Linked DNA regions of Homo sapiens: regions 1, 3 and 4 are each linked to region 2. The links come from fine-mapping of genetic effects on gene expression. A gene starts in region 2. Each other region holds a variant in brackets. All regions are shown on one strand. Distances are between the middles of the regions. Region 1 overlaps CYP4F22 (cytochrome P450 family 4 subfamily F member 22). Region 2 holds the start of ZNF333 (zinc finger protein 333). Region 3 overlaps CYP4F22 (cytochrome P450 family 4 subfamily F member 22). Region 4 overlaps ADGRE3 (adhesion G protein-coupled receptor E3).

Region 1 (8,142 bases), 860 kb before region 2:
TCAGGCGGAAACGTAGCAGTGTTAGTGCCACAACCACGCGCAACTCGGCCATGGCGAAGCTCTGTCCGATGCAATTCCTGGAGGAAGAGGGGACAGGGCTCAGGCCCAGCTTCTGTGTGAGCACTGGTCCCCGGGGGTCACATGCCTCCTTTGAAAATGAAGCAAGCATCCTGGGCTGGCTGAGGGTTAAAGTGAAACCCCACGCTGGGTGAGGGTTAAAGTGAGACCCCACGGATCGCTCAATTAATGTGACCTTGGGGTTGAGTGTCTGAATCCCAGTACAGCCTCTTACTAGCTGTGTGTCCTGGATACACAGCGCCCCCTCTGAGTCTCAGTTCCTTCATCTGTAAAAACGGGGACAAAGGCATCATAGAGCCAATGGGAGCGTGGGAGCCCAGAACTCAGGGCCTGACACACCGTTGGTGCTCAATACCCAGGATGCTATTGCAGAGTCTGATTTGGGGGCCTCCTGGCGCATTGGGGAGAGGGTGCTGGGTCTTCAGAAAGGACGCCTGGGTGCCATCTGATCTCTGCTCCTGAGAGGCACATTCCTGATCTTTCCCTGCCTCTGTTCCTACACAGCTGGCTTGGACTAGGGGAAATAGAGGGGTTACCTGGGTCCTGCAGAGAAGGGCACATAGGCCAGTGGAGAGCGCTGCTGTGGGTTGTCCGGGTCAAAGCGGTAGGGGTTGTACACCTAGGGAGGAACAGCCTGGAGATGAGTCTGGGGGCTGCCCCAGACATCCCAGCCTGGCCCCCTTCCCTGAGCCTCTGGGGGTCAGTAAAGATGGATGGGGAGCACCCCAGGGCCACCTCTTCCATTCCACCTTGCACTTCCTGCAATGCAGCCACACCTGCCTCCTTCTGTTGTTCACACGCACCAGTGAGATTCCACCTCAGGGCCTTTGCACTTGCTGTTTCCTCTGCCTAGAACAGGCTTCTCCCTGATCCTTCATCCCCTAAGTTCTCAGCTCAAACATCTCCTCGGCAAGGCCTTTCATAACCACTCGAGCTAAAGTGCCCCCTCCACCTGTTTTTCTTTTTTTTTGTTTGTTTGTCTGTCTTTGTTTGTTTGTTTGTTTGTTAGAGTCAGAGTCTCACTCAGGCTGGAGTGCAGAAGCGCGATCATAGCTCATTGCAGGCTGGGCGCGGTGGCTCACGCTTGTAATCCCAGCACTTTGGGAGGCCAAGGCAGATGGATCATCTGAGCTCAGGAGTTCAAGACCAGCCTGGCCAACATGGTGAAACCCCATCTCTACTAAAAATACAAAAAAATTAGCCAGGCATGGTGGCACACACCTGTAATCCCAACTACTCAGAAAGCTGAGGCAGGAGAATCTCTTGAACCCAGGAGGTAGAAGTTGCAGTGAGCCAAGATCGCACCACTGCACACGCTCCAGCTTGGGCAACAGAGCAAGACCCAGTCTCAAATAAATAAATAAATAAATAACCATAGCTCATTGCAGCCTCAAACTGCTGGGCCCAAGCGATCCTCCTGCCTCAGCCTCCCGAGTGGCTGGCACTGCAGATGTGCATCACCATGGCTGGCTAACTTTTTTTTTTTTTAGAAATGGGGTCTCACTGTGTTGCCCAGGCTGGGCTGAGCTGGAACTTCTGGCCTCAAACAATCTTCCCATCTTGGTCTCCCAAAGCACTGGGATTACAGACACAAGCCACCACATTGGGCCAACTTTTTCCTTTTTGGTAGAGATGGGGGGTCTCGCTGTGTTGCCCAGGCTGGTCTCAAACTCCTGGGCCCAAGCGATTCTCCCACCTTAGCCTCTCAAAGTGCTGGGATTACAAGTGTGAGCCACTGCACCTGTAAACCGGAACTGGCCCAGTTTTTCTTTCTTTTGTGCATGTATCAATACCCAAAATCTTATTTATTTGCTTATTGTCTTCCCCAAAACTTCACTGTGAGCCCTGTAAAGGCAAAGACAGTATCATCCTCTATTTTCAGAGCCCAGCACACACTCTGGCACACAGTAGGTGCTCAATAAATATTTTCTGCCCTAATGAATTAACAATCAGTGGGTGAATAAATGGCTAAATGCGGAGTGGGGAGGGGTGTGCGCACTCAGGCCCTGCAACCAGCCCTGCTCGCTGGCTCCCTGGGGCGCAGGGGAGGGGAGGACCTGAGGGCAGGGAGGAGTGGGGCAGGCACTCACCTTGGAGTCAGGCCACACTGTGGGGTTGTGGTGGGTTCCATAGATGCTGACCAAGCAGATGATTCCTGTGGGGAAAGATGGGATCAGTGGGGCCAAGGGGAGCCAGGGCCTCCTCCAGAAACATCCCCCAACTTGGGTCTCCCTAGAGCCATGATGTTCCCATGAGCCATCTGCCACCACCTTCTGTCCATCCTTCTCTAAAAAATTCTGCTGCCCCATCCACTCTTCCCACCTTTCCCTAAGAGGAACCTATCATCTTCTTTCTGGCTGCCAAGCTGGCCACATAGGGATCTTTCTTACTCGCAGATCTGACATTGCTCCTCTTCAGCTCAAACACCTACCTTGGCTCCCTGCTGCCCCCAGGATTGAGTTCAAGCGCCATCACCTGGCACTCAAGGCCTTTCAAAATCTGCATCCTGAGGCTCTACTCCATAAACATGCTCACTCTTTCACTTCCACACTCCAAGCCTCACCTCCCACATTCCCTCCTCCAGGCAGCCCTCCCTGCATTCCTCTCCATATTGGAGCTACTCCAGCCCCTGTCTCTCCCTTTAGCCCATTCCTGATTCCATACGCCTGGGAATGTCTGCACCCTGCTGTATCTCCCCCAGAAAGGGCAATACTCAAAACCTGAGCCAGGGTCCCCTGTATCAACCAAGGCAGGGCTTGGTCTCCAGGGAGTAACTGGCAACTGAATGAAACTGACCCTCCCCAACTGCACCCTCACAGGCCCATCCCTGCGACACTGCCTCCTTCCTTTCCACCTGGACTCACCCGGCTCTATCTCCCTGCACACACAACTGGGTTTTCTCCAACACCCCAGAAGCAACAGGCACACAGAGAGCTATCCCATCTGCAGGGATAGTGCACCTGGGGCAGGCATAGCCAGGCCCCTGTGGACAATAGAGCAGCTACATCATTGGAGGCAGTGCACCAGCAGCAGGCGGAACATGGTAGGCACCTTTGGGGATGATGCGCCCATCTGGGAGCTTGATGTCCTCCGTGCATTGGCGAGAGACAAGAGTGACAGGTGGGTACTGGCGCAGGCTCTCCTTAATGCACATAGTTGTAAAGGGCAGCTGAGTCAGATCGTCCCTGGGGAGAATGGAGATATAACTAGAGGCCGAGCCACCATGGCACCACCTCCCCAAAACACACACACACACACACACACACACACACACACACACACACACACAC[T/A]CTCTCCCTCTCTCTCTCTCTCTCTCTCTCTCTCAGGGGCAGCTGGGCAAGAAACCAGTCCAGGATTTTAGACTTGCCCCAATTTCTGCCATTTGCAGTTGTCTCATGCACAGGTGGGAAGTACTAATATTTAGTGGTTTTTTTGTTTTTTCTTTTCCTTTTTCTTTCTTTTTTTTTTTTAAGACCGAGTTTCGCTCTTGTTGCCCAGGCTAGAACATAGTGGCGCATCTCGGGTCACTGCAACCTCAGCCTTGCAGGTTCAAGCAATTTTCTTGCCTCAGCCTCCCAAGTAGCTGGGATTACAGGCATGCGCACCCACACCCGGCTAATTTTTGTATTTTTAGTAGAGACAGGGTTTCTCCATGTTGGCCAGGCTGGTCTCAAACGCCTGACCTCAGGCAATCCACCCACCTCGGCCTCCCAAAGTGCTGGGATTACAAACGTGAGCCACAGTGCCCGGCCAGTACTAATACTTAGGATGCAAAGTATCTGAGCACCAACCGCTCAGAACAGCACTAGCACTGGGCCCTCTGCTGGGCCCAGCATTAAGCCTTTAATTGATGAATTATGTGGAGGTCCAGGGGCACCTAGGCGAGGTGCCAGGACAGCCAAGGGGACTCACGGCAACAGCAATATGCCAGTTTATATGGTCCATTTCTGTACTTAAAAAACTGCTGCAGGACAGGTGTGGTGGCTCTCGCCTGTAATCCCAGCACTTGCAGAGGCTGAGATGGGCGATCGTCTGAGGTCAGGAGTTCAAGATCAGTCTGGCCAACATAGCAAAACCCCATCTTTACTAAAAAACACAAAAATTAGCTGGGTGTGGTGGCGTGCACCTGTAGTCTCAGCTACTTGGGAGGCCGAGGCAAGAGAATTGCTTGAACCCGGAAGGCGGAGGTTGCAGTGAGATGAGATTGCACCACTACACTCTAGCCTGGGTGACAGAGTGAGACTCTTGTCTTAAAAAAAAAAAAAAAAAAAAAACTGGTGCAGGCCAGGCATGGTGGCTCATACCTGTAATCCCAGCACTTTGGGAGGCCGAAGCAAGTGGATAACTTGAGCCCAGGAGTTCGTGACCAGCCTGGGCAACAAAGAGAGACCCCATCTCTACCAAAAGTTAAAAAATTAGCTGGGCATGATGGCACACACCTGTGGTCCCAGCTACTCAGGAGGCTGTAGTGAGCTATGATCATGCCACTGTACTCCAGCCTGGGCCACAGTGTGAGAGCCTATCTCAAAAAAAGAAAGAAAGAAAAAAAGAAAAAAGAAAGAAAAGAAAAGTGCATTATCTCCTTATAATATCATTTACTTAATATTTTTTCCCTTGGACTTTAGGGCCCAAAATTGGGCTAATGATAACTCTTGGTTCATGTTCTAGATTAGATTAGTTTCTTTAAATTAGCAGGTTCTCTTTCTTTTTTGATGGCGTCTTGCTGTTTCATCCAGGCAGGAGTGCAGTGGCACAATCTCAGCTCACTGCAACCTCTGCTTCCCAGGTTCAAGCAATTCTCACGCCTCAGCTTCTCAAGCAGCTGGGATTACAGGCACACACCAATACGCCCAGCTAATTTTTGTATTTTTAGTAGAGACAGGGTTTCACCATGTTGCCCAGGTTGGTCTTGAATTTCTGGCCTCAAGTGATCCACCCGCCTTAGCCTCCCAAAGTGCTGGGATTACAGGCATGAGCCACTGCACCTGGCCCAGGTTCTCTTTCAAAGAAACTTTATGGCTGGGCACAGTGGCTCACACCTATAATCCCAGCACTTTGGGAGGCCAAAGTAAGAGGACTGCTTGCACTCAGGGATTTGAGAGCAGCCTGGGCAACACAGCAAGTCCCCATCTCTTAAAAAAATGTTAAAAATTAGCCAGTTGTGGTGGCACACTCCTATAGTCCCACCTACTCAGGAGGCTGAGGCAGGAAGATTGCCTGAGCCCAGGAGTTTGAGGCTGCAGTGAGCTATGATTATGCCACTGCACTCCAGCCTGTGTCTTAAAAAAAAATAAACTTCATGTTGCTATAAAGGGCAAACAGCATCCCTGGCATAAAGGTATTCATCCATACAAACACCACTGTGAAAGCAGTAGTGTGTTATTAAATTGTGTCTACACACCAACTCCCACCCAACTCTCTCAACCTGAGACATCTTCTCCACTTGTTTAAAAGGAAGATTAGCAAAGTGTTCAGGACACAGTAGCACCCCACTGAGCATGTCCCCCTGAGGCCATAAGGCAAAAGGTTGAAATAGAACCGAAAGGAACCTCCTCACTGTGTGAGTTGATGCTATTTAATGTTGCGGCTGTGTTTTTCTTCTTTTCTTTTCTTTTCTTTTCTTTTTTTTTTTTTTTTTTTTTTTGAGACAGGGTCTCACTCTGTCACCCAGGCTGGAGTGCAGTGGCGTAATCTTGACTCACCACAGCCTCCACCTCCTGGGTTCAAGCAGTCCTCCCACCTCAGCCTCCCAAGTAGCTGGGACTATAGGCATGCGCCACCCCACCCAGCTAATTTTTGTATTTTTTTGTAGAGACAGGGTTTCGTCATGTTGCCCAGGCTGGTCTCAAACACCTCAGCTCAAGCAATCCACCCCCCTCGGCCTCCCAAAGTGCTGGAATTACAGGCATGAGCCACCACGCCCAGCCTAATGCTGTGTTTTCTTTTCATCACCCAGAATCAGCTCTACATAGCATGAATCTGGTAGAGACTGGGTATGTGTTCTGATTCTCCACTTCCTCCCTGAATTAGAATTATATACCTGTACCCTTTGTCATATGATTCTTCAGTGCCTTCTGCTCAGGTGAGTGGAGTATATGTCCTGCCCCATTCATGCTGGGCTTGGTCACGTGACTTGTTTTAGCCAATGCAATCTTCTAGTGCAAGCACAGCTTTTGTTTTTTTTTTTTATTTTATTTATTTACTTATTTTATCTTTTTTTGTGGGGGGGTGGGGACAGAGTTTCACTCTTGTAGCCCAGGCTGGAGTGCAGTGGTGCAATCTCAGCTCACTGCAAACTCCACCTCCCAGGTTCAAGTGATTCTCCTGTCTCAGCCTCCCGAGTAGGGGGGATTACAGGCACCCATGACCGTACCTGGCTAATTTTTGTATTTTTAGTAGAGATGGGGTTTCACCATGTTGGCCAGGTTGATCTCGAACTCCTGATCTCAGGTGATCCACCCACCTCGGCCTCCCAAAATGCTGGGATTACAGGCGTGAGCCACCCCACCCGGCCCAAGCAAAGCTTTTAAATTTCATGGCTTTTTGTGCTTCTGGAATCTGCCTTGAGAAGAATACGACCCAGGGTAGCCTCTGGTCCAAAGAGAACAGAAAGGGAGTATATGAAGCAGATCTGAACCCAGCTCTTAGTTTTGAAGCAACTCCACTCCACTCAGCCAAGTCCAACAGCAATTAGAGTAATGAGCAGACAAGAGCAAGAAATGTGTGCATACAAAAGCAAGAAACAAATGCTTGCTGTAAACCACTAAGTTTGGGAGCTGTTCATTATGCAGCATCATTGCAATAATTGCTGACTAGGACACTTTGAGAACTTCTGCATTATGAGGTGGGCATAGGCACTATAACCACCCCCATTTTGTAGCTGAAGAAATTGCAATTCAGGAAGCTAAAGTGGCTTGTCTGAGGTCACACAATCAGTAAGTGGGAGAGCAGAGGCTTACACCCAAGGCTCTGGCCTCAACCTGCCCCCTCCATTCCCCTGACCCCACACTCACCACTCCAGCTCCTCCAGCTCCCGGCCTTTCATGACTTCCTGAATCTCTTCTCGGCATTTCTCCTGGTATTCCGGATACTTTGCCAAATTGAACAGCATCCAAGAGATCCCACTGGATGTTGTGTCGTGACCTGCAGGGAGATGAGGGTATCTGAATGGAGGCTGCCTGAAGAAAGCAGAGATGCTGTCTACAGACAATGATGTCCCTTCCTGCCCTCCTCCAGCCTCACCCCACATCCTCACCCTCAAACATGAAGGTGTCTGCTTCGGCTCGGATATCCTCGTCTGACAGTTCCTTTCCATCTTCATCCTGGAATGGGCAGTAGAGGGTGCTCAGCCCACTTCATCCCACCCTCCGCATCCTAGGGGCTCCTCAAAACTCAGATATCTCCCCGCCCCCATCTTTTTTTTTTTTTTTTTTTCTGAGATGGAGTCTCGCTCTATCACCCAGGCTGGAGTGCGGTGGCACAATCTCGGCTAACTGCAGCCTCCGACTGTCAGGTTCAAGTGATTCTCGTGCCTCAGCCTCCTGAATAGCTGGGATTACAGGCACATGCCACCACTCCAAGCTAATTTTTGTATTTTTAGTAGAGATGCAATTTTGCCATATTGGCCAGGCCGGTCTCGAACTCGTGGCCTCAAGTGATCTACCTGCCTCATCCTCCCAAAGTGCTGGGATTACAGACATGAGCTACCACGCCTGGCTCCCCTCTCTCTCTTAAGCCAAGCTGTGGGGGGAACTAGTCCAGGAAGATGGAAGTATGCAACTTGTCTAATAAAGATGGAAAGTGCCCAGCATGGTGGCTCACACCTATAATCCCAACACTTTGGGCAGCTAAGGTGGGAGGATCACTTGAGCCTAGGCGTTCAAGACCAGCCTGGGCAACATGGTAAGACCCCATTTCTACAAAAAAAAAATCAGCCAGGTGTGGTGATGCATGCCTGTAGTCCCAGCTACTGGTGAAGCTGAGGCAGGAGGATTAAGCCCAGGAGATCAAGGCTGCAGTGAACCATGACCGCATCACTGCACCCCAGCCTGTGTGACAGAGCAA
Region 2 (8,142 bases):
GGATTACAGGCATGAGCCACCACGCCCGGCCTCATCTGAGAATCCTTTTAATTGCAGAATTCTTCAGAGCAGTGCTGTCCAACAGACATCACTCTCTGATGATGGGAATGTTCCATGCCTGTGCTTTCCAGAAAGGGGCTACCAGCACATGTGGCTGTTGAGCACTTGGGCAATGTGACTGGGGCGACTGAGAAACTGAGCGCTTAAACTTTTTAATTTTTTTTTTTTTTTTTTTTTTTTTAGAGACAAGGTTTTACTCTGTAGCTTAGGCTGGAGTGCAGGGTCACAATCCTAGCTCAATGCAGCCTCAATCTCCTGGGCTCAAGCTATCCTCCCACCTCAACCTCCCAAGTAGCTGCGATTCCAGGCACACACAACCATGCCCGGCTAAATGTACTGAATCTTAATTAATTTAAGCTGAATTTATATTTCTATGGCCACATGTGTTTTCAATAGGTCTCACCAGGGATGACAAGGATGGCCCTGGAGGAGCTCCGCTCAGAGCCCCAGGGTCTGCTGTGGGACTCTTCTTCCATGCCACCTCTAGAGGTCAGGCACAGAAGGAAGTCCCTAGGTCCCCTAGGGCAGGGATGAGGATGCTCCTCACTCACCCTTCCCTTTCTTCCTCAGTTGGGGACGGAAGTGGCGAGAGAGAAGACAGGGCCCAGAGGACATAGTTATCCTACATATCCACCCCTTCAGCCACAGGAGCCCCCAGTTTCCTCACCATGACACTGGAGCCAGGGTTTGAGGTCTCAGTCGGTGTTCTCCCTGCAATAAAGGAGACACTGAGGTAAAAGAAGGGGTGAGGACGGAAGCAGAGCATTTTGGGGGATCTCCAGCAGAGTGGTCACAATCAAAACCCTTACAGGACATTTATCTCCATAAGCAACATGTTGGCCCCCAAGGCACCTTTCAAACAACAGCCTCTAGTGACTGCTACTGACTCTTCCCATGTCATCAAAGGAACATTTTAACTTCTAGCTTCCCTCAAAATACTTCTAAGATCTTCTACTTTTCCTCCACTGCCCATATGAAGGTGTGATTTGATATTTATTTCTTAAACGATTTTGGCCTCTCTCTCTCCAACTGTGATGTAAACCTTTTTTTTTGAGTCTCACTCTGTTGCTCAGGCTGGAGGCCAAGGTGGGTGGATCACTTGAGGTCAGGAATTTGAAACCAGCCTGGCCAATATGGTGAAACCCCATCTCTACTAAAAATACAAAAATTAGCTGGGCATGGTGGCAAACGCCTGTAATCCCAGCTGCTCGGGAGGGAGGCTGAGGCAGTAGAGTTGCTTGAACCCAGGAGGCGGAGGTTACAGTGAACTGAGATCGTGCCACGGCATTGCAGCCTGGGCAACAGACTAAGACTCCATGTCAAGAAAAAAAAAAAAAGAATAAGGTCCAGGTCAAGCACGGTGGCTCATGCCTATAATCCCAGCACTTTGGAAGGCCGAGGCAGGTGGATCACTTGGGGTCAGGAGTTCAAGACCAGCCTGGCCAACATGGTGAAACCCCATCTCTACTTAAAATACAAAAATTAGCTGGGCATGGTGGCACACACCTGTAATCCCAGCTACTCAGGAAGCTGAGGCCAGAAAATCGCTGGAACCCGGGAGGTGGAGGCTGCAGTGAGCCCAGATCCCACACTGCACTCCAGCCTGGGTGACAGAGCAAGACTCTGTCTGAAAGAAAAAAAATAAATAAAAAGAAGATCCAATGCTAACCATGATCTTCAGGGACCTGCCTCCCTCTCTCACCTGGCTCATCCATTCAGTACTTTATTTTCTCTACTTTAGCTTTCTCTACCTGTTCTCAGCTCCTGGAACACAGCAGGCTTCGTACTGCCTGAAAGACTGTACATCTGGAATGTTCTCTCAAGTTTCCTCCGCTACCCCACTCCACAGCTAGACCCCTTGTTTAGCTACGTACAACTCATCTTGAAGGTTCAAACATTTGTTCCTTTTCAGATGTGTTTCCTGACATCCTCCCCAAGTTCTCCTGTTCCACGTTCTCATATTGCCTTTGGCACTATTAATTTACCAATATTATTAGCTAGAATAAAGCCTCCACAGGGGCAAGCACTGTAACTATTTCAGTCCCACTGTTTCCCCATGTACAGGGTCCAATTCATTGAGGGCACCCCAGTGAAAATATGCCAAATAATCAACACTCCTCAAGAATGACTCAGTATAGCTAGCCTAAGAAGGAATATGCCCACGCACACACAAAACACAGTATGAGGCCAGGTATGGTTGCTCACGCCTATAATCCCAGCACTTTGGGAGGCCGAGGCGGGTGGATCACCTGAGGTCAGGAGTTCCAGACCAGCCTGGCCAACATGGTGAAACCCCGTCTCTACTAAAAATACAAAAATTAGCCGGGCATGGTGGCGGGCGCCTATAATCACAGCTGCCTGGGAAGCTGAGGCACGAGAATTGCTTGAACCCAGGAGGCAGAAGCTGCAGTGAGCCGAGATTGTGCCACTGCACTCCAGCCTGGGTGATGAAGTGAGACTCTGTCTCAAAAAAAAAAAAAAAAAAGACAATATGACACCATAAAAATCAAATATAAGAATAACTTAAAGTGCCTGTCTTTCATAAGACATAATCACACAAGTTTCAGGTACCTTTAAGAAACAATATTAATTCTTTTTAAAAAGGCAAGGCAAGCGCATATATTCTTTGTGGAAACAAACACCTCACTCGTAAAACTGAAATCTGATGCATGATTTTCCTCTGGAGTTAATTTTTTCCTGATTTCTCAGTAGACACGAGCTTTAACCCCATTATTAAAAAAGACATCCCACTTATGGCCAACTCAATTTGAATTTCCAGTATTAACAAAGTTTATATCGTCTTTTCCCTGAAGTTCCATTAGTTTTGAAGCTCTGTGATTCACATGCTTGGGGGAAGGACTGGAGCCAACTTGAAAAGATCTGAATAACAGTCTTAGGTTTTCTTGATAATAATATTTGTGAAATAACTGAGAAACGGCTTTTCTTAACCTAACAGTGAGAAACTTGATGCCCACAGCAGAAGTAAAAGTCGTCTCAAACATAGAAAATAAAGAAAAACAAAAACAAAAAAAATTAAGAACTCCTCCTTTTGTTGTTGTTTTTGTTTTTGAGATGGAGTCTTGCTCTGTCACCCAGGCTGGAGTGCAGTGGCACAATCTCAGCTCACTGCAACCTCCGCCTCTGGGGTTCAAGCGATTCTCCTGCCTCAGCCTCCCGAGTAGTTGGGATTACAGGCGCCCACCACTACGCTCGGCTAATTTGTGTATTTTTAGTAAAGACAGGGTTTCACCATGTTGGCCAGGCTGGTCTCAAACTCCTGACCTCAGGTGATCCACCCGCCTCGGCCTCCCAAAGTGCTGGGATTATAGGAGTGAGCCACCAAGCCTGGCCAAAAGCTTTCTTATGAGAAAGAAAAAAAAGAAGAAAGAAAAAGTTATGGAAAAGGAAGAGATGCAAAGCCAAGCTAACAGATATTAAGCTAAAAGACTTCAAATTGTCAGTCTCCAAAAGAAATCTCTCGTCATCTAATTCATTCCTTAATGGAGGATGCATTCAATTTTTTAAGTAAATTTGGCCAATCAATTAAACCAGTTTGCACATGTGGACCCAGACCTCACTTTCCAGTTGCAAAGCTAGATAATATTAAGTATCATATCAAATAAAACGTGAATTACTAATTCGCAGTTATCTTGCATACTGTAGGCAAGGTAGGGCCGTCTTTATGCACTTTCCCTAAAAATTGGGAAGGACAGGTGAGAGCTGGGGCCGGTGTCACCACATTTCTGAGCTGTGGGACCTGGACTGTTTGGGATTTCCCTTTTGACAGGATGACAGCCCTGTCTGCCCGGACGGGGGGTACCTGAGAGCGAGAGACCGGGCGGCGGGCGCCCAGATGCGAGGCCCTGACTGTGTGGGCCTCACGCCGGCCACCGGCTGATCGCAGGGAGGAAACCCCTCACACAGGCGGAGCTGTTCTAGGCCCTCCAGTCCCTCCCCGCGCCAGCCGAGCCCTCCCCGCCCTCCCCGCCCTCCCGAGGGGCCGGGCCACACCTGCAAGCCAGCCGGAGACACTCCCACCGTGCCGTGCCGCACCGCGCCGCGCCGCGCAGCACAGCTCAGCCGCCGTCGGCCGCCGCCGCGCGCACTTCCGCTTCCGGTCTCGGGGCCGCCGGGAACGGAAGTGGCTGTGGCTCAGGCTGTTGTGGCCAGGGTAGCCTTAGGCGGCGGCAGAGAAACTAACGTCTTCTTTAGCCTCCAAGGAGAAATTCTAGTATTCTTACCCGGGGGATGAGGTTAGGCTCTGGAGTGGGGTCCCACAGAGCATGGAGGGTGGTGCTGGGGGCGGAGCCTATGTCCGAGAGACAGGGATAGGGGTGGGGCTTAGGTCCCGGGGCAAAAGTGGGGCGGGGCCTGTGCGCGGGGGCGGGGTGGAGTGTGGCTTGCCCTCCGATGGCTGATGGGCGGGGCTTGCACCCCAATGGCGGAGTGGGCGGGGCCTTGGTTTGCAGGGTGGTAGTAGGGGCGGGTCGTGCGCCTCAGGGGCAAAAATGGGGCGGGGCTTGTGCTTGGGGTGGGAATGGGAGCTGAACTTGCATTCGGAAGGCGGGATGAGGGGACCTGGGCTTCAAGGGTTGAGAGGGGCACACCCGACCCCTCCCCGGGTCTCTTTAGGGATGCTCAATATTTAACTTACCCTTTTCTCCTTCCTTTTCCCCAACCCCTTCCACCTTTATCCATGGGCTTAATCCAATCCCCTACAAAAATATACCCATACTTAAGATTGTTTTTGTATATTTTTATACGGCTGACCCTTAGGCAACGGGAGTTGGGGCGCCACCCTGTGCAGTGGAAAATTCACTTCTTTTGACTCCCCCAAAACCTACCTACTAATAGACTACTGTTAACCAGAAGCTTTACCAATAACATAAAGTTAGTTAACACATATTTTGTATATTATATGCCATATTCTTAAAATAAACTAAGCTCAGAGAAAAGAAAGTGTTATTAAGAAAATCATGAAGAAGAGAAAATATATTTACTCTTCGTTACGTGGAAGTGATCGTAAAGATCATAAATAAACGTCTTCATCGTCAGCTTCACCCTGAGTAGGCTGAGGAAAGGGAGGGGTTTGTCTTGCTGTCCCAAGGAGGACAAAGGTAGAAAAAAATCTACCTATAAGGGGATAGCCACAGTTCAAACCCTTGGTGTTCACGGGTCAACTAACTGTCTTTATTCTAAAAATAGGACGATGTATTTTTGTTTCTTCTACAGCTTGCCCTTCTCACTAAAAATAAGATGTGTGAATCTAAGACATAGATCTGACTTTTTAAAAACTATTTATTATGTAGTATACATAGTACATACCTATGGGAAAAGTTCAAACGGGAGGCTCACTCTATTCCTAAATTTTCCTCCCCTGAAACAACCACTGTCACTAGTTCCCTGGTATTCTTTATATATCAAGCACATGTGCAGTCATGCACCACATAACAAGGTTTTGGTCAACCACGAAACACATACACAGTTGTGATCCCATAAGGTTATAATGGAGCTGAAAATTTCTTATCACCTAGTGATGTTGTAACTGTCACAATGTTGCAGTGCAACACATTACTCACATTTAAAAAGGTTTTAAAAATATGAAAAGACCGGGCGCGGTGGCTTACGCCTGCAATCCCAAGACTTTGGAGGCCGACGCTGGTGGATCACTTGAGGTCAGGAGTTCGAGACCAGCCTGGCCAACATGATGAAACCCCCAGTCTCTACTAGTAATACAAAAATTAGCTGGGCATGGTGGCATGCGCCTGTAATCCCAGCTATTCGGGAGGCTGAGGCAGGAGAATTGCTTGAACCCAGGAGGTGGAGGGTGCAGTGACCCAAGGTCTTGCCATTGCACTCCAGCCTGTGCAACAAGAGCAAAACTCCATCTCAAAAAAAAAAATGAAAAATAGCTTATAGAATAAGGATATAAAGAAAGAAAATACCTTTATGCAGTACAATTTATCTGTGTTTTAAGCTAAATGTTCTTACAAAGAAGTTGGGCCGGGCGGGGTGGCTCATGCATGTAATCACAGCACACTTTGGGAGGCCAAGGCAGGAGGATCGCTTGAGTCCAGGAGTTCCAGATGACCAGCCTGGGCCACATAGCAAGACACTGTCTCTAAAAATAAAAATAAAAGAAATGTATCATTTAAAAAACAAAATGTACAAAGGTTCAGTTATTTCAGATAAATAAGTTTTGGAGATCTAATGTACAGCATGGTGACTGTAGTTAACAGGAACATATTATGTACTTGAAATGTGCTAAGAGGGTAGGTCTTACGTGTTCTTACCACCAAAAAAAAAAAAGCAAATATGTGAGGCGATGGATGTGCTAATTGCTTCATTATTTCACTGTATGTATATCAAAACATCAAGTTGTACACCTTAAATATATACAATTTTTATTTGTCAACTATAACTCAACAAAGCCAGGAGTAAGAAAGGAGTCAGTGGCCAAGCATGGTGGCTCACGCCTGTAATCCCAGCACTTTGGGAGGCTGAGGCAGGTGGATCACCTGAGGTCAGGAGTTCAAGACCAGCCTGGCCAACATGGTGAAACCCCGTCTCTATTAAAAATACAAAAATTAGCCGGGCATGATGGCAGGCGCCTGTAATCCCAGCTACCCGGGAGGGTGATGCAGGAGAATCACTTGAACCTGGGAAGCAGATGTTGCAGTGAGCCGAGATCGCACCATTGCAATCCAGCCTGGGCAATAGAGCTAGACTCCGTTTCAAAAAAAAAGAAGTGAGAACATCCAGTATTTGGTCTGCTGTTCCTGTGTTAGTTTGCTAAGGATAATGGCCTCCAGTGCATCCATGTCCCTGCAAATAACATGAGCTGATTCTTTTTTACATCTGCATAGTGTTCTATGGTGTGCATGTACATTTTCTTTATATCGCCTGCTATTGATGGGCATTTAGGTTAGTTCCGCATCTTTGCTATTGTGAGTAATGCTGCAACGAACTTACATGCGCATGTGTCTTTATGATAGAATGATTTATATTTCTTTGGGTAGATACTCAGTAACGAGATTGCTGGGCCAAATAGTATTTCTGTTTTTAGGTCTTTGAGGAATCGCCACGCTGTTTTCCATTGTTAACCCCATTTTAAATGTGAGAAAGTAAACACTGAGTAAAATGAATCAACCTGACATGAAATCACCGAGCACAGAGACCACATATCTTAAACGTTTGTCGGATGGATGGATGGGTTCACAAATGCATGAGTGAATAAATATCATGATCAGGCTTCCTAACTCTAATTCTCATGCACTTGTCACTAAATTTAGCTTACTGACTTAATGAGTATCTTTGGGCCTGAATGTCCCAGAATAATAAAGATACAATAATAGATTTAAGGTGATGTAAAAAAGAACAAGTTAATATCTCTGTAGGATTTGCCTTAACTCCTCATACCCGGAAAATTTAGACCTTCATCCATACTTCAACCCAGCTTCTTAAAGCCCAGCATTTGAAGCTACTTTGGATTTCTTTTTCTTTAATCTTACCAGAAGATGGCACTATAATGTAAAGACTAAGCCCTCTGAGCTGGGCGCGGTGGCTCACACCTGTAATCCCAGTGCTTTGGGAGGCCAAGGCAGGAGGATCACTTGAGGCCAGAAGTGCAAGACCAGCCTGGGCAATATAGAAAGACTCTATCTCAATTTCAAAAAGAAATTAAGCACTCTGAAATAGGACTCAATCATCATTATTATCATCATCATCAATAAAGTAATATTGATAATGGGGATCTTATTTGTGTCTTACTGTAAATCAAGCATTATATTTTTAAATCTCATCTCAGGATAAAACCAGAAAGTGTTAGGAAACTTGAATTATTTCTTCTTTTGTGTTGATGACATAACCAAATAAGGGAGGAATTTGGTTAGGTCGCAATCCCTGGGAGGAGGGTAGGTCCTCATGATTTGCTGGGGTGCTCTTGGGAGAGAGGGAGTAAGGAAAGCAGGGTAGGAAGGAAAGGAAGGAGTTGAACAAAGATGTGGGCTCAGCTGGAGTCAAGCTTCAACCTAATCTCATAGGGAGCTCTGGAGTATGAGACACAGAACTGGTCCCATTCTA
Region 3 (8,142 bases), 850 kb before region 2:
TTTATTTATTTTTTTAGATAGGGTCTTGCTCTGTCACCTAGGCTGCAGTACAGTGGCACAATCATAGCTCACTGCAGCCTTGAACTCGTGAGCTCAAGTGATCCTCCAGCCTTGGCCTCCCAAAGTGCTGGGTTACAGGTCTGAGCCACCACACCCAGTCTCGGGTATATTTTTGAACAGGCCCAAAGAGGGATAAAGACTTTCAACATAGGCATAGTCATTGTAGCATCACTAAAACTAAATGGTTACACTCCTCAGCATGGGAGAAAATATTTGCAAATTGTCTATCTGATAAGGGATTGGTACCTAAAATAAATAAAGAATTCTTAAAACTTATTTTAAAATGGGCAATGGATATGAATAGGCATTTCTCCAAAGAAGACAGAAATTTCCAATGAGAATGTGAAAAGATACTTAACAGCACTGGTCACCAGAGAAATGCAAATCAAAACCACAATGAGATACTACTTCACCCCACTAAGGTGACTAAAATCAAAACTTATAATAACAAGTGTTGGGCTGCACTCCAGCCTGAGCAACAGAGCAATATCCTATCTCTAAAAAGCAAACAAAACAACAACAACAAAAAAAAGCAAGTGTTAGTGAGTATGTGGAAAAACTGGAGCTCTCATACATCACTGGTTGGGAGAGCAAAATGGTACAACCACTTCATACCATGTTGAAACCCACTGAAATAAAGTTTAGCAGTTCCTCAAAATGTTTAAAATGGAATTACCGTATGACCCAGCAATTCTGCTCCTAGGTATATAGCCAAAAGAATTAAAAATGTATGTTCACACAAAACTTTGTGCATGAATGTTAATAGCAGCATTATTCATAAAGGTCGAAAAGTGGAAACAGTGTCCATCGATGGGTGACTGGATAAACAAAATGTGGTATTATGTGGTAAATGGAACATTATTCATCAATGAAAAGAAATACATAACTGATACATGCCACAATATGGATGAGCCTTTAAAACATTATGCTGGGTGAAACAAGCCAGACACAAAAGTCTGTATGATTCCATCCGTGTGAAATATCCATAACAGGCAAATCTATAGAGATAGAAAATAGATTAGTGATTGCCTAGACTTGAAGGAGAAAGGGAAGTGCACGGGTTGCTAAAGTGTATGAAGTTTCTTGGGGTGGGGGAGGATTGATGAAAATATTCTAAAATTGATTATAGTAATGGTTGCACAACTCTGAATATACTAAAAGCAGTTCAGGTGTATTCTTTAAATGAGTAAATGGTATAGTATGTGAATTGTGTCTCAACAAAGCCATTATTTTTTAAAAACTAACAGGTGAAGCAGGCTTGAAGGGAGCTGTCCTCAGTCCTGAAGTGGGCTTGTTTTCATGCACTTATTGCAGTCTGTCGTTTTCTTGTTTGTTTACTTGTTCATGGTTATTACCTGTCTTCCTACTAAAATGGAAGCTCTAGAAAAGCAACATCTTGTCTTTCTTGTTGAATATGGTGTTCCCAGCACCTAGTTCAGGGTTGGCACTTACTAGGCACTCAGTAAATATTTCTTGGATGAATTAATTATTTAATTTCTAAGACAATCTCTGCCTTATCCAACTGGAACGTGCCCCTATAATGCCTAGAGTAACGAAGTCATTAGCTTGTTACTGAGGACCTACTATGTGTTGCAAGTTTTGCATTAATTATCTCCCTTATTCCTTATGTCCCCACTTAGACTATAAACTTCACAGAACTGTGACTGTCTGTTGTTCACCACCCTGTTCTCAGCAGCAATATCATGGTGCCAGGCACGTAGTAGGTGCACAATGAATATTTGATGAATGAATGAATTAATGAAGCAAGGCATTGGTTATTTGATTCATTTACTCAACAAATATTCTCTGAGCATCAACTATGTGCCAGGGCAGTGCTGCATCATTTTATCCTTAAAGCATCTCTCAGAAAGTAAGAGATTGTCATCCTTTTTTTACAAACAAGGAAACTGAGCCTCAGAAAGTGGGGAGGACACTGTCCAAAGACCACATACTCTTCCTAGTGGAATGAAAAAATACTAACATTTACTAAGCACCTACTTTATACCAAGCCATTGATTCACATTATCTCATTTAATTCTCACACAATGACTATGGGGAAGGAATTATGATGCCCATTTTTTTGATTAAAAAAAAAAGTGAAGCTCAGAGAGATGGTCAGTTTCCCGGAAGCACATGGCCCATCCGTGGCAGAGCTCCCATAGGCCAGAGTTGTCTAATGCCTGGGAGTTCCCTTTCTCCTGCCACCATCTTGCTCCTAGAGCAGCTGGCTCCATCTTCCCAAGAAGGGTCACACTCACTCTTGGCAGTTGCTGTTGTAGCTGAAGACACATTTCTGAAGACTGTCCAGGGTCATGAGGCTGATATGCTCAAACATATCAAGGGAGACCGCTGAGCCCTCTGCCAGATGCCGCCATTTAGCCTGGAAGAGAGATACATGGTGACTGTGCATGGAAACCACAGAGAGGGAGTCAGCCTAACAAGGACCCGACTGCGTTTTCACTACAAGCTCATTTTATAGATAAAGTCAGTGAGGGCTCCTGACATCACATGGCTTGCCCATGCATGAGTTGGAGCCTGGACCAGCCTCACTCCCAAGACACCCTCTTCCCTCAAAGCCTTAGGACTCACATGCATAATGTCAGCGCTCTGGTTGAAGATCTTCATGTAAGGCTTCAGGATGTCAAAGTGGAAGGCGGGTGTCAGCAGGCGACGGTGCCGGCTCCACTTGTCACCTTTGCTGAGCAGCAGCCCATCCCCTGGGCCCAGAAGACTGAGGTTAGGGACCTCTCCTGTTACTCTGAAACCTTCCAAGGAACCCCATGCTCTTCCCTCTCTTCTCTAAAGCCCCAGCCCCAGCCTACCCACTGGGCACTCACCTAGCCAAGGTTTTAGGAAGCCATAGAAGAGGTCATCCTTGGGGGCGATGGCAGCTGTGGAGGGCAAAGGGAAAATGGTGACTCAAAACAGAGTTTTTTGGTTTTTTGTTTTTTTTTACGGAGTCTTGCTCTGTCATCCAGGCTGGAGTGCAGTGGTGCGATCTCCACTCACTGCAACCTCCGCCTCCCAGGTTCAAGCAGTTTTCCTGCCTCTGCCTCCTGAGTAGCTGGGATTACAGGTGTCCGCCACCATGCCCGGCTAATTTGTTTGTATTTTTAGCAGAGACAGAGTTTCACCATGTTGGCCAGGCTGGTCTCGAACTCCTAACCTCAAGTGATCCACCCACCTCAGCCTCCCAAAGTGCTGGGATTACAAGCACGAGCCATCGTGCCTGGCCTCAAAACAGAGTTCCAACCCTTGACCTTTGCTTATGACTTCCTTAGTCCTCCTCACTGGGCTCCAACCTCCCACTGTATTCACCCAGTCCGTCCTCCACACCTACCCGAGAAAAAATCCTTATAAAACACTGATCTGAACATGAGCCTCCCCTGCTCAGACACCTCCCATGGCTCCCCATTGCACTTGTAAAAAGTTCAGGCTCAGCCTGGCATTGAAACCCAATTCCATCTGGCCCCTGTATGCCTCTCCCACCACCTCATCCTTCAACATACACCAGATAACCCTATTCTCATCGCCTGCTGTGGATCACCTCTGAACCTTTGACCAGGTTGAGCTGTCTATCCAGAATGGACTTCTTCACCTGAGTCTTCCCCTAATCCACCCCCTTATTTTCTGCCAGCTCAGGCCATCTGAATCACACCTCCTGTGCTCCCAGCCTCCAGCCTCACCCTCTCCAGTGTGTCCCTCATGAATGGCCCCAGGAGAATCTCATCTGACTATCAGATCTGACCACGCCCCTTCCTGCTCACA[C/G]ACCCATCACCCTCACATACCAGCCCATTTTCAAAGCCCTGAATCATTTGCCTTTGTCCAAATCTCTCTCAAGACACCTCTGTCTTCCACCCCCTATTCGACGTCACAGAACTAACACCACATAACTTTTTGTTTTTTGTTTTTTTGAGATGGGGTCTCACTCTGTCACCCAGGCTGGGGTGTGTGGTGAGATCATAGCTCACTGCTGCCTCCAATTCCTGGATTCAAGCGATCCTCCCACCTCAGCCTCCCGAGTAGCTGGGACTACAGGCATACGCCACCATGCCTGGCTAATTTTTTAATTTTGTGTATGGACAGGGTATCGCCATATTGCCCAGGCTGGTCTTGAACTCCTGAGCTCAAGTGATCCTCCAAGTTCAGCCTCCCAAAGTGCTGGGACTACAGGCATAAGCCACCATGCCCGGCCACACCACAGAACTTTTCTCAGCTCCTTAAAAAGACCACGTGCTCTCTCTTCTCTGAGACTTTCCACCAGCTGTTCTCTCTGCCCCAAACACTCTTCCCTCATCCTGTATGAGAACTTGAATGCTTCTCCCCACCCCTGACCCAGCAGTCACTCTGGATTGTATCCACTTAGTTACAAGCCCCTTAACAGGAGGGTTCGTGTTGATTACTGATATGTTGTGCTAGATAAATTTTTATTAAATGAATAAATAAGTCAATCCAAGGATGGATGAATGAAAGAATAAATGGGTGGATGGATGAGTAGAGGGACAGATGAGTACATGGATGGATAAATAAGTGGATGGATGAATAGCAGATGGATAGATGGTGGGTGGGTGGATGGATGGATGGATGAATGGATGGATGGGTGGATGGTGGATGGATGGATGAGTGGATGGATGGATGAATGAGTGGATAGGTGGAAGGTGGATGGATGAATGAATGAATGAGTGGATGGATGAATGGATGGATCCTCCTTCTATATACTGAACAGATTTGGGGCTGAATGGGCAGAGGCCCAGGAAGGAAGTATCTGAAATTCGAGTGATATCACTTTTACCTGAATGCGACTCAGCCACCTACACCGACACAATCCCTAGGAATTGGCCAATTGCCTACACAATCATCCGCCCACTCATCCCCCCATTCATCACACCTCTTATGCTGCCTTTCTGTGCCCAACCCAAGCTGGGTGATGCTGGGGACCCACAGATGGCTCAGCTCTATGCCCTCCCTGGAGGAGCTCCTGAGTGGGGCAGGAAAGGGAAGCAGAGACACACCATGCAATTACCAAGAAGGTAGAAAGTGTGCTAGGTGCTAAGGAAGGCTCAGAAAAAGGGCTGTTGGAAGTCAGGGCAGGCTTCCTGGAGGAGGCAGCATTGAAGAGGAAAGCAGGAGTCTAGTCACTCCTCTCCTCTCTGCACTCTGGACTCCAAGATAGGCTCCACAGGGATCTTTCTGACACCAGGATCTGGTCAATAGCTGTCTTGTTCAAATACTTCCCGTGGCTCCCTATCACTCCCAGGATAAAGTACAAGTTCATTCACTTTGCTGTCCAGTTCCTGCTTAACTGTCAGTCTCATTTCCTATTCCCCCCAACATATCACCTTCACTCCAGCCACCCTAAATCACCTGAATTCCCCTGGAATTTTCACACATCTGCATCAAGGCACTGGCAGGACCTTCCATCTGGGACTCCTTCTCTGGCAAGCTCCTAGGCATCCTTCGGGGCCCAGCTTCACTGACACCTACTCCAGGAAGCCTTCTCCAAACCCCCTTCTCAGCTGAACCATTGTTCTCTCATCCTCAGGTTCCTTTTCCACTCCAACTCTGACCACAATGCCAGGAAAGTCTGTGTCCACGCTCCTCACCAGTTTTCCCCTCCAGCAAAAAGGAGATGGTAGGCCAGGTGCAATGATTCACACCTGCAGTCCTAGCACTTTGGGAGGCAGAGGCAGGAGGATCACTTGAGCCCAGAAGTTCAAGACCAGCCTGGGCAACACAGCAAGACTCTGTCTCTACAAAAATGTTTTTTAAAAAGAAAAAAAAAAAGAGGGAGAGATGGTAATGCCTACCATGGATGAGACGGTGTACGAAATACCCCCACATGGTGCCAGCATGGAGAAACTCATGCTCAGAAAGCTGCATATCACTATGTTTGAGAGCTTGGGTTCTGGGCCAGCCAGGTCTGAGTTCAAATCCCAGCCCTGCCACTAACTAGATATGTAAGCCTGGACATGTTACCACTGCCAAAGGAGAAAATAGAACAATCTTGCCTCATGGCATCCCTATAAGACTCAACAAGCTCTTGTGTTCCTGGCACATGGTAGATGCTCATTAAATACGTGCGTAGGTAAATGAATAATTGACCAACTGTTGGCTATTTTTATTACTATGGTTAAAATGATTATTTATTGGCATCAAGAACTTGTGAGATAAATAGTTGTGTTTCCTGTTAGTAGAAAATTAATGCACACCCTCTGTGGAAAACAGCAAGGTGGCTCCTTAAAAAGTTAAGTACAGAATTCCATATGACTTGGCAATTCTACTCCTAGGTATCTACCCAAGAGAGAAATGAAAACATATGTCCACCCCAAAACTTGAACACATATGTTCATAGTAGCATGATTCACAACATCCAAAAGGTGAATGGGTAAACAAAAAAAAATCCATACAGTGAAATGAATTCAGCCCTAATGACCAACCTGGACAACATAGCAAGACCCCATCTCTACAAAAATAAAAATAAAAATTAGCTGGGCATGGTGGTGCGTGCCTGCAGTTCCAGCTACTCGGGAGGCTGAGGCAGGAGGAGAATCACTCGAGCCCAGGATTTCAAGGCTGTAATGAGTTATGGCTACACCACTGCACTCCAGCCTCTGGGTGACAGGGTAAGACCCTGTCTCAAAAAAAAAAAAAAAAAAAAAAGAATGAAACTGATTCCTACTACAACGTGAATGAACTTCAAAAACATTATGCTGAGTAAAAGAAAACAGACACAAAAAGATCACATTTTATGTGGTTCTCTTTCTATGATGTACCCAGAATAGGCAAATACATAGAGACAGAAAGCAGATTCGAGGTTACCAGCGGATGGGAGGAGGAGGGAAATGGGAAGTGATTACTCAATGGGTACAGAGTTTTTTTATGAGGTGACTAAAAATTTTGAAACTGGAAAATGCTGGTGGTTGCCCAACATGGTGAATACACTAAATACCACTGATTGTTCACTTGTAAATGGTTAATTATATGTTACATGAATTTCACCTCCATTTTAAAAAGATGATATAAAAGCAAGCTACAATTATATGTCTATATATCATCATGTTCTCTATAAAGCATGTTTATCTACTTTCTCTCATTAAAATTTCCTAGTCCAAAGGCCCATAAGATGATGGGGAAACTGAAGCTCCAACAGGAGCTGGGCCCTCCTCCAGGCTCAAGGGCTGTGCAGCTCCAAGCTCAGAACAGCAAGCCACTCCCAGGTGTGGCCCCAGGAGGTCCTGATCCAGGGTGGTGTCTGTGACTGGAGCCTGATCTGTGTAATTCCAGGTGGGGGCACCCTGGGGCCAAGAGGCCTCACTCCAGGCTGACTCACAGCACCACCCTTTTTTCCATCCTGGAGTTCCCTATCTGGCTTCTCTGATGGGGTACACAGAATATCCCCTCCCTCCACTGGATGAGGGGAGGGCAAGAGGCTTAAGCATCTACTACATGACAGCCCCTGCTGGGGCACTACTCCTCGGTCTGTTTGGAGTCTCAGAACCAGGCAGGATGGTGCTCAGGAAACTGATGCTCTGAGGGGGAGGAGAAGGGAGGAGGAAGGAGAAAAAAGAGAGACCAGGCGCTGTAGCTCACGCCTGTAATCCCAGCACTTTGAGAGGCCAAGGCAGGAGAATCACTTAAGGTCAGGAGTTCAAGACCAGCCTGGCCAATATGGTGCAGCCCCGTCTCTACTGAAAAAAAAAAATACAAAAATTAGCCAGGTGTGGTGGTGCACACTTGTAGTCTCAGCTACTCGGGAGGCTGAGACAGGAGAATCACTTGAACTCGGGAGGCAGAGGTTGCAGTGAGCTGAGATCATGCCACTGCACTCCAGCCTGGGTGACAGAGTGAGACTCTGTCTAAAAAGAAGAGGAAGAAAAAGAAGAAGGTGGAGGAGGAGGAGGGGGATGGGGAGGAGAAGAAGGAGAAGGAGGAGAAGGAGAAGAAGAAAGAAGTAGAAGGAGGAGGAGAGAAAGAAGAAGAGAAGGGAGGAGGGGGAAAGAGGAGTAGAGAGAGAAGTAGAAGGAGGAGGAGAAGAGGGAGGAAGAAGAAAGGAAAGGAGGAAAAGAGAAAGAAAAACATATA
Region 4 (8,000 bases), 34 kb after region 2:
GCTGGGATTATAGGCATAAGCCACAGCACTCAGCCATAAATCTGTCTTTTACTAAGCAATGCGCACCTCTATTGACAGTGTAGAAGCAGACTGTGATTCTACCTGGGTTCTGATGTTAATCTCTTAAACTTGTCTTATTTTACAAAAAAGGAAAATGCCTTTGGTTGTTTTCCTAATGTTAAGAGGTCTGCACCGTCCTTTTATAAAGACTGAGCCCATTTGGGGTTCGTTATTACCAAGGCTGGCAGCTCTAAGCAACAGACACCCCCACCCAATGATAAAGTGTGCAGCTTTGGTTCAAAAGGGCAGTTTTCTACAATAAATACGGTTTCCTATAACAAACATATTCTAGACTCAGGGTTGTAAGTCAAAGTTCTTGAACTCTTAAGATAAAATGTTCAGTATTAAAACAAAGCTGTTTGTGCTTTTAAGCAAATAGACTGAGCTGAAAACCAAAATTTAGAATAAGTACAGATTTAACCTCAGCATGATGATAAAAGATATGTAAACATTTGCTAGACTTTCCTTGTCTTTTTTTTTTTTTTTTTTTTTTTTTTCAGAGGCAGAGTCTCGCTCTGTCTCCCAGGCTGGAGTGCAGTGGTGTCATTTCAGCTCACTGCAACCTTTGCCTCCTAGGTTCAAGAGATTCTCCTGCCTCAGCCTCCCGAGTAGCTGGGATTACAGGCACCCGCCAACATGCCCAGCTAATTTTTGTATTTTTAGTAGAGACAGGGTTTTGCCATGTTGGCCAGGCTGGTCTCGAATGCCTAGGCTCATATGATCCTCCTGCCTCAGCCTCCCAAGCAGCTGGGACTACAGGTGCACCCTTCCTCAAATTTCTAAAGCAGAGATGTCCTCACTAAGCACAGAAACCAACACAAAAGTCTTCATTAACAGCTGATGACCAGACACTGATGCTTCTGTTTCGGTTATCATTCCCAGCCAGGCTGACTTTAAACACAAGAGGCTTCTAATTTTCTGTTTTCTCGGACATTTCAGTTCTAATTTCCAGTCAAGATGGAATAAAAGAATTTGGAGGCCAGGCACGGTGGCTCGCGCCTGTAATCCTTGCATTTTAGGAGGCCAAGGCGGGTGGATTGCCTGAGGTCAGGAATTTGAGATCAGCCTGGCCAACATGGCGAAACCCCATCTCTACAAAAAATACAAAAAAAAAAAATTTAGCCAGGTCTGGTGGTACACACCTACAGTCCCAGCTACTTGGGGGACTGAGGTGGAGGATTGCTTGAGCCCAGGACATTGAGATTGCAGTGAGCCAAGATTGTGCCACTGCACTCCAGCCTAGGCAGCAGAATGAGACCCTATCTAAAAAAAAAAAGGGAAAAAAAAAGCCAGGTGCGATGGCTCATGCCTGTAATCCCAGCCCTTTGGGAGGCCGAGGCAGGCGGATCATGAGGTCAAGAGTTTGAGATCAGCCTGGCCAACGTGGTGAAACCCCATCTCTACTAAAAATACAAAAATTAGCCATGCCTGGAGGTGCGTGCCTGTAATCCCAGCTACTCAGGAGGCTGAGGCAGGAGAATCACTTGAACCCAGGAGGTGAAGGTTGCAGTGAGCCTAGGTCGCACCATTGCACTCCAGCCTGGGCAACAGAGTGAGACTCTGTCTCAAAATAAAAATAAAAAATAAAAAATTTTTTAAATAAAATTTAAAATTTTTTAAAAATCAACAAACAGCAGATAAAGACTATGAATTCAGGCTTTTACCTTCTAGGTGCAAAGTTGCTCACCCCATTACTTACCCCACCTGCCCACCCCTCTGCCTGGTCACTCTCAGTTCCAATAGTAACTCCATCATGATGTCTTTTGCAGACACCACCTCCTCAAAGACAACCGAGGGCAGGAAAGAGGTGAGTGGAGGCTGATCCCCAGACCCTTCCCAGGTAACAAACATCAGTAACAAATATTTACAAAGCCCAAAGTGAGCAAATGGGGATGGATTTAGGGCAAAATATATATTATATATACATATATAATGTATTATTTAGGACAAAGAATATGTTATATATAAATACATAATATATTATTACCATATAATATCATATTACTACACAATAGTACATATTCATATATTATATACAATTATATATTATGCATAATTGTGGTATGTATACATATATCTATAGATAGATAGATACAGATATACCATTAGGTATACCACTATATATGTATCATTATCCAGCTCACTATAGATATATCACTATATATACAGTTGAACAACACACATTTGAACTGCGGGGATCCACTTACACGAGGACATTTTTCAACCAAATGTGAATCAAAACTACAGTATTGCCGGGCTTGGCGTGGTGGCTCACGCCTGTAATCCCAGCACTTTGGGAGGCCGAGGTAGGCATGTTACTTGAGGTCAGGAGTTCGAGACCAGCCTGGCCAACATGGTGAAACTTCATCTCTACTAAAAAATACAAAAATTAGCCAGGTATGATGGCACATGCCTGCAATCCCAGCAACCCCAGAGGCTGAGGCAGGAGAATCACTTGAATCCAGGAGGCGGAGGTTGCGGTGAGTGGAGATGTTGCCACTGCACTCCAGCCTGGGTGACAGAGCAAGACTCCGTCTCAAAAAACAAAACAAAACAAACAAACAAACAAAAAAATATATATATATATATGTATATATAGGCAGGATGCAAAACTCACAAAGAGGAAGGACTGACTTTTCATGAGTGAGTTCCATGGGTCTTGAGTATGCATGGATTGGATTTGAGCATATATGGACGATCCTGGAACCAATGCCATGCGTATACCAAGAGGGCTCTGTATCTGTATCTACTTATATATATATATAGATATAGGTATAGATAGACACACACAGTGTGCATGTACGTACATACATATGACAGTGTGTGAGTGTGTGTGTATGAGCGTGTGTGTGTTGCCATCTAAAGACAGGAATCTATCCCAGACCAAGAAAGACAGGCCAAGAGAGAGTATATTAAGGCCTGCTGCACTGCTGCAAAAGACATCCAAGTATCCAATGGTATCCATTATTGTCTCCGGCCAACTGACGGCATTTATATAAATATGTGATTACATCATGTAATCAATCCCTAGACTGTGAGCTTTTTGAGGAAGGGAATAAGACCAACCCCAAATTAGGAGTTCAAGGAATGATCACTGAAGTAATGAACAAATAAAGAATCAAGTAATCAGGCCGGGCATGGCGGCTAATGCCTGTAATCCCAGCACTTTGGGAGGTGGGTGGATCACCCGAGGTCAGAAGTTCAAGACCAGCCTGGCCAACATGATGAAACCCCCATGTCTACAAAAAACACAAAAATTAGCCGGGCATGGGGGCGCATGCCTGTAATCCCAGCTACTCAGGAGGCTGAAGCAGGAGAATCACTTGAACCCAGGAGGCAGAGGTTGCAGTGAGCTGAGATCACGTCACTGCACTCCAGCCTGGGCAACAGAGTAAGACTCCATCTCAAAAATAAATAAATAAATACACAATGATATAGGAGTTAAGAAGAAATTACTTAGGCAGATGGTGAGGGTACGGAAGTCCTCAGTGAGGTTTTCCTTTTAATGAAGAGCAGCCCCAAATTTTCTTTTCTAACAAAGAGCAGCCTGTAAAATCAAGCTGCGGACATAGACAAGCAAGCTGGAAGCTTATGGGTCAATGCCAGCAGCTGTGCCAATAGGAAAAGGCTGCCTGGGACTAGACATGATCAAAATGGCAGCTCCATCTTCCCTTCTCTTTGCCAGTCACGTGTACAGTAAGGAGCAGACAAGATGGTACTGGCCAAGTGGGTAGGGCAACCAGCCTTCCCCGAGCAGTAAGTAAATGTCGCACCTGGCCCAACCAATCTGTGGGCCCTACATAATTCAGACACCGCCTCC[TCA/A]GCCTGACTATAAAATCTAGTGCCTGAATATAAAATCTAGTCGGTGGGCAGGATTTTGCTTTCTTTCGGGCATCCCTCTCTCTCGCAAGGGAGAGAGCTGTTCTACTTTCTTTTTTTTTTTTCTTTTCTTTTTTTTTTTTTTTTGAGATGGAGTCTCACTCTGTCACCCAGGCTGGAGTGCAGTGATGTGATCTCGGCTCACTACAACATCTGCCTCCTCTGCCTTCCAGGTTCAAGCGATTCTCCTGCCTCAGCATCCCAACTAGCTGGGATTACAGGCACGCGCCACCATGCCCGGCTAATTTTGTATTTTCAGTAGAGATGGGGTTTCACCATGTTGGTCAGACTGGTCTTGAACTCCTGACCTCAGATGATCCACCCCCCTCGGCCTTCCAAAGTTCTGGGATTACAGGCATGAGCCACCGCACCCTGCCCTCTTTTCTTTTTCTTTTGCCTATTAAACCTCCACTCCTAAACTCACTCCTCGTGTGTGTCCATGTCCTTCATCTTGGCGCAAGATGACAAACTCTGGGTATTTACCCCAGACAGTGACGCTGCTTCAATAGTGGCAACCACTCCCTTGTTGCGACAGTGACAACCGAAAATGTCTCCAGCCATCGCCACATGTGCCCTGTGGAGGGAGTAGCAGAATCACCCCCCCGTTGAGAACCACTGGTCTATTTCTAACAAACTTATCACTACCTTGTTGGCAAAAAACGTTAATAATAACTAACCCAATCAGGCACGGTGGCTCACTCCTATAATCCCATCACTTTGGAAGGCCAAGGCAGGAGAATCGTTTGAGCCCAGGAGTTCCAGACCAGCCTGGGCAACATAGCAAGACCCTGTCTATACAAAAAAAAAAATTAAAAAAATTAAGCAAGCATGGCGGTGTGCACCTGTAATCCCAGCTACTCAGGAGACTGAAGCATGAGAATCACTTGAACCCAGGAGCTGGAGGTTGCAGTGAGCCAAGATCCCACCACTGCACTCTAGCCTGGGCGACAGAGCAATACTCTGTCTCAAAAATAATAATAGTGACTCACCCTTACATAGCTTTTACCAGATACAGACACTGTCCTAAAAGAAGAGCATCTGTTAACTCATTTAATCCTCCAGAAAAACCCTTTGAGTTCCTTTTCCTGTCGTGGGGCACAGAGTGATTGAGTGACTTGCCCAAGGTCACAAAGCTGGGACATGATGAAGTGCCAGGATTTGAACGTGGTTCCTCCAGCTCCAGAGCCTGCTTTCTCATGCTTTCTACTGTTCTTTTGGATATGGGACTTACCAGATTACATTTTTAAAAAATGAAAATTCTTTATGTCTTCAAAGCTGCAAAAGATTGTGGACAAATTTGAGTCACTTCTCACCAATCAGACTTTATGGAGAACAGAAGGGAGACAAGAAATCTCATCCACAGCTACCACTATTCTCCGGGATGTGGAATCGAAAGTTCTAGAAACTGCCTTGAAAGATCCAGAACAAAAAGTCCTGAAAATCCAAAACGATAGTGTAGGTAAGACAATAATGAGGACTGATACACCCTGGGGACTGGTTAGCAGCTGGGATCTGGGTTAGGCAATTAGAAAAAAAAAATTGAATACACCACATGAGTCCCTTTATGTAAATTACAAAAATTTATATAAATTCTAGAAAACGCAAACTTATCTAGAGTGACAGGGAGGGGCAGGAGGGAGGGGTGGCAGAGGCATGAGAAAATCTGGGGAAACTATTAGGGGTGATGGAAATCTTCCTGCCTTGATTGTGGTGTTGATTTCAGAGGTGTGTGCACCCAACAAAACTCACCAGATTGTACACTTTAATATGTGCAGTTGGTTAGACATCAATTATACCTCAATAAAGTTGTTTATTCAGAAGATTGCCAATAGTTTCCAATCCCAGGTCTGGAATTTTCACTTAAATGTAGTTTGAGGACCAGGCATGATGGCTCACGACTGTATTCCCAGCACTTTGGGAGGCTGAGGCGGGAGGGTTAATTCAGCCCAGGAGCTCAAGACTGGCCTGGGCAACATAGCAAGACCCCCATCTCTTTAAAAAAAATTTAAAATTTGCCAGGTGCAGTGGCTTGTACCTGTGGTCTCAGCTACTTGGGAGGCTGAGGGAGAGGATGGCTTGAGTCCAGGAGTTTGAGGGTGCAGTGAACTATGATCATGCCATTGCCACTCCAACCTGGATGACAGAACAAGAACCTGTCTCATTAAAAAAAAAAAAAAAACAGGTTTTGGGCTGGGCATGGTGGCTTACACCTATAATCCCAGCACTTTGGGAGGCCAAGGTGGGTGGATCACTTGAGGCCAGTAGTTTGAGATCAGCCTGGGCAACATGGTGAAACTTAATCTTTACTAAAAATACAGAAATTAGCGGGGCGTGGTAGCTCATGACTGTAATCCCAGCTACTCCAGAGGCTGAGGTGGGAGAATCACTTGAACTGGGGAGGCAGAGGTTGCAGTGAGCCGAGATCACATCACTGCACTCCAGCCTGGGTGACAGAGCAAGACTCCATCTTAAATTAAAAAAAAAAAAAAAAAAAACACACACACAGCAGGCTTTGAAAAAGTCAGTGCCTATTCTTCTTGGAAAACTGGAATCTGGATACTTTGGTTCAAAATTAAACCATTTTCCAGATTGCAAGTAAATCTCATCTCTCCTGATTTTGCCACGTCCTAACTGTTTGATCTGAGACCAGTGCCCTCACCTCATTGGGCTTCATTCTCCTGTCAATAAAATGAGGATAATATTAGCTGGACATGGTGGTGTGCAAATGAGGTCCCAGCTACTTAGGAGGCTGAGGTGGGAGGATCGCTTGAGCCCAGGAGTTCGAGGCTGCAGTGAGCTGAGATTGCACCACTGCACTCCAGCCTGGACAACAGAGTGAGAGCCTGTCTCAAAAAAAAATTTTAATAGAGATAATGAAAGTGCATGTAATGCACCTAGGACTAGGATCCCTCAGAAGCTAAACGACTCAAACTTTTAAGAAAGAAGAAAAACTACGGTAGTAATTGCTATAATTATGATTATTCTATCTTTCCACTCTTTAATATTATGAAATATTGTCAAAATAGTGTCATTCTTTTTTACAGGAAACACATAGTTTAATGTAGAAAATATTAAATAATATAAAAACAAGTCAAATTGAGGTTTGATAAAAATGACAAAGAGTAACAAGCGATAATATAATGGATGATGAAATTAACATTGTGGGCAGGATGAGGTGGCTCATCCTGTAATCCTAGCACTTTTGGAGGCTAAGGCAGGCGGATCACTTGAGGTCAGGAGTTCGAGATCAGCCTGGCCAACATGGTGAAACCCTGTTTCTACTAAAAAAAATTAGCCAGGCGTGGTGGTGCATGCCTGTAATCCCAGCTACTTGTGAGGCTGAGGAAGGAGAATCGCTTGAACCCGGGGGACAGAGGTTGCAGTTAGCTGAGAGCAAGCCACTGCACTCCAGCCTGGGCAAAAGAGCAAGACTCCATCTCAAAAATAATAATAATAACAATAAATTCACTTACACTGAGCTCAAGAATTTCTATTCATTAAAACGTACTAAATGAATGAAACAGTAGGCCAAAAACATTAATACATAATTAGAGTAAATACTTGTAAACTTTTCAAAAACTGAGAGTCAATATTAGACAAACCAGTAGTAGTTTCTAGAATGTCATTAATGTCATTCTTTTTTTTTTTTTCTTTTTTTTTTTTTGAGATGGAGTCTCATTCTATTGCCCAGGCTGGAATGCAGTGGCATGATCTAGGTCACTGCAACCTCTGCCTCCTGGGTTCAAGCAATTCTCCTGCCTCAGCCTTCCTAGTAGCTGGGATTAAAGGTGCCTGCCACCATGACCAGCTAATTTTTGTGTATTAGTAGAATGGGATTTCACCATGTTGGCCAGGCTGGTCTTGAACTCCTGACCTCAAGCAATCAACTGGCCTCAGCCTGCAAAAGTGCTGGGAATTCAGGCATGAGCCACTGCACCCAGCCATAAAATAGTGTCATTCTTGATGTGCTGTTTTGTTGCTTGCTTCTTTTTTTTTTTAACCTTTTAATATGCACAAAAGGAAATAGGAGAATAAAATCCCTGATGCACCCATCACCCAAT

Evidence for each region. PIP is the estimated chance that this variant, and not a neighbour inherited with it, causes the effect.
Region 1: its variant is fine-mapped to the expression of ZNF333 in T cells (GENCORD, PIP 0.95).
Region 3: its variant is fine-mapped to the expression of ZNF333 in breast (GTEx, PIP 0.93).
Region 4: its variant is fine-mapped to the expression of ZNF333 in transverse colon (GTEx, PIP above 0.99).

Annotation. Positions count from the first base shown.
Region 1 is chr19:15,543,229-15,551,370 of GRCh38, reverse strand. CYP4F22 (cytochrome P450 family 4 subfamily F member 22) reads right to left here. Exons shown (of 14, transcript NM_173483.4): 9 at 7,334-7,400; 10 at 7,092-7,221; 11 at 3,130-3,263; 12 at 2,169-2,233; 13 at 615-697; 14 at 1-77. Among named protein-coding and RNA genes, the nearest start is that of CYP4F22, 39 kb to the right of the region's middle. The variant T/A (reference allele first, on the strand shown) is at 3,369.
Region 2 is chr19:14,686,080-14,694,221 of GRCh38, reverse strand. ZNF333 (zinc finger protein 333) reads right to left here and starts at 4,174. Exons shown (of 12, transcript NM_032433.4): 1 at 4,072-4,174; 2 at 728-771. The coding sequence starts at 730. RefSeq lists silencers at 3,831-4,200, 4,531-4,580.
Region 3 is chr19:15,532,170-15,540,311 of GRCh38, reverse strand. CYP4F22 (cytochrome P450 family 4 subfamily F member 22) reads right to left here. Exons shown (of 14, transcript NM_173483.4): 5 at 2,898-2,951; 6 at 2,650-2,777; 7 at 2,319-2,440. Among named protein-coding and RNA genes, the nearest start is that of CYP4F22, 28 kb to the right of the region's middle. RefSeq lists a silencer at 1,207-1,407. The variant C/G (reference allele first, on the strand shown) is at 3,829.
Region 4 is chr19:14,652,380-14,660,379 of GRCh38, reverse strand. It overlaps ADGRE3 (adhesion G protein-coupled receptor E3), which reads left to right. Exons shown (of 16, transcript NM_032571.5): 5 at 1,830-1,867; 6 at 5,215-5,398. Among named protein-coding and RNA genes, the nearest start is that of ADGRE3, 18 kb to the left of the region's middle. The variant TCA/A (reference allele first, on the strand shown) is at 3,881.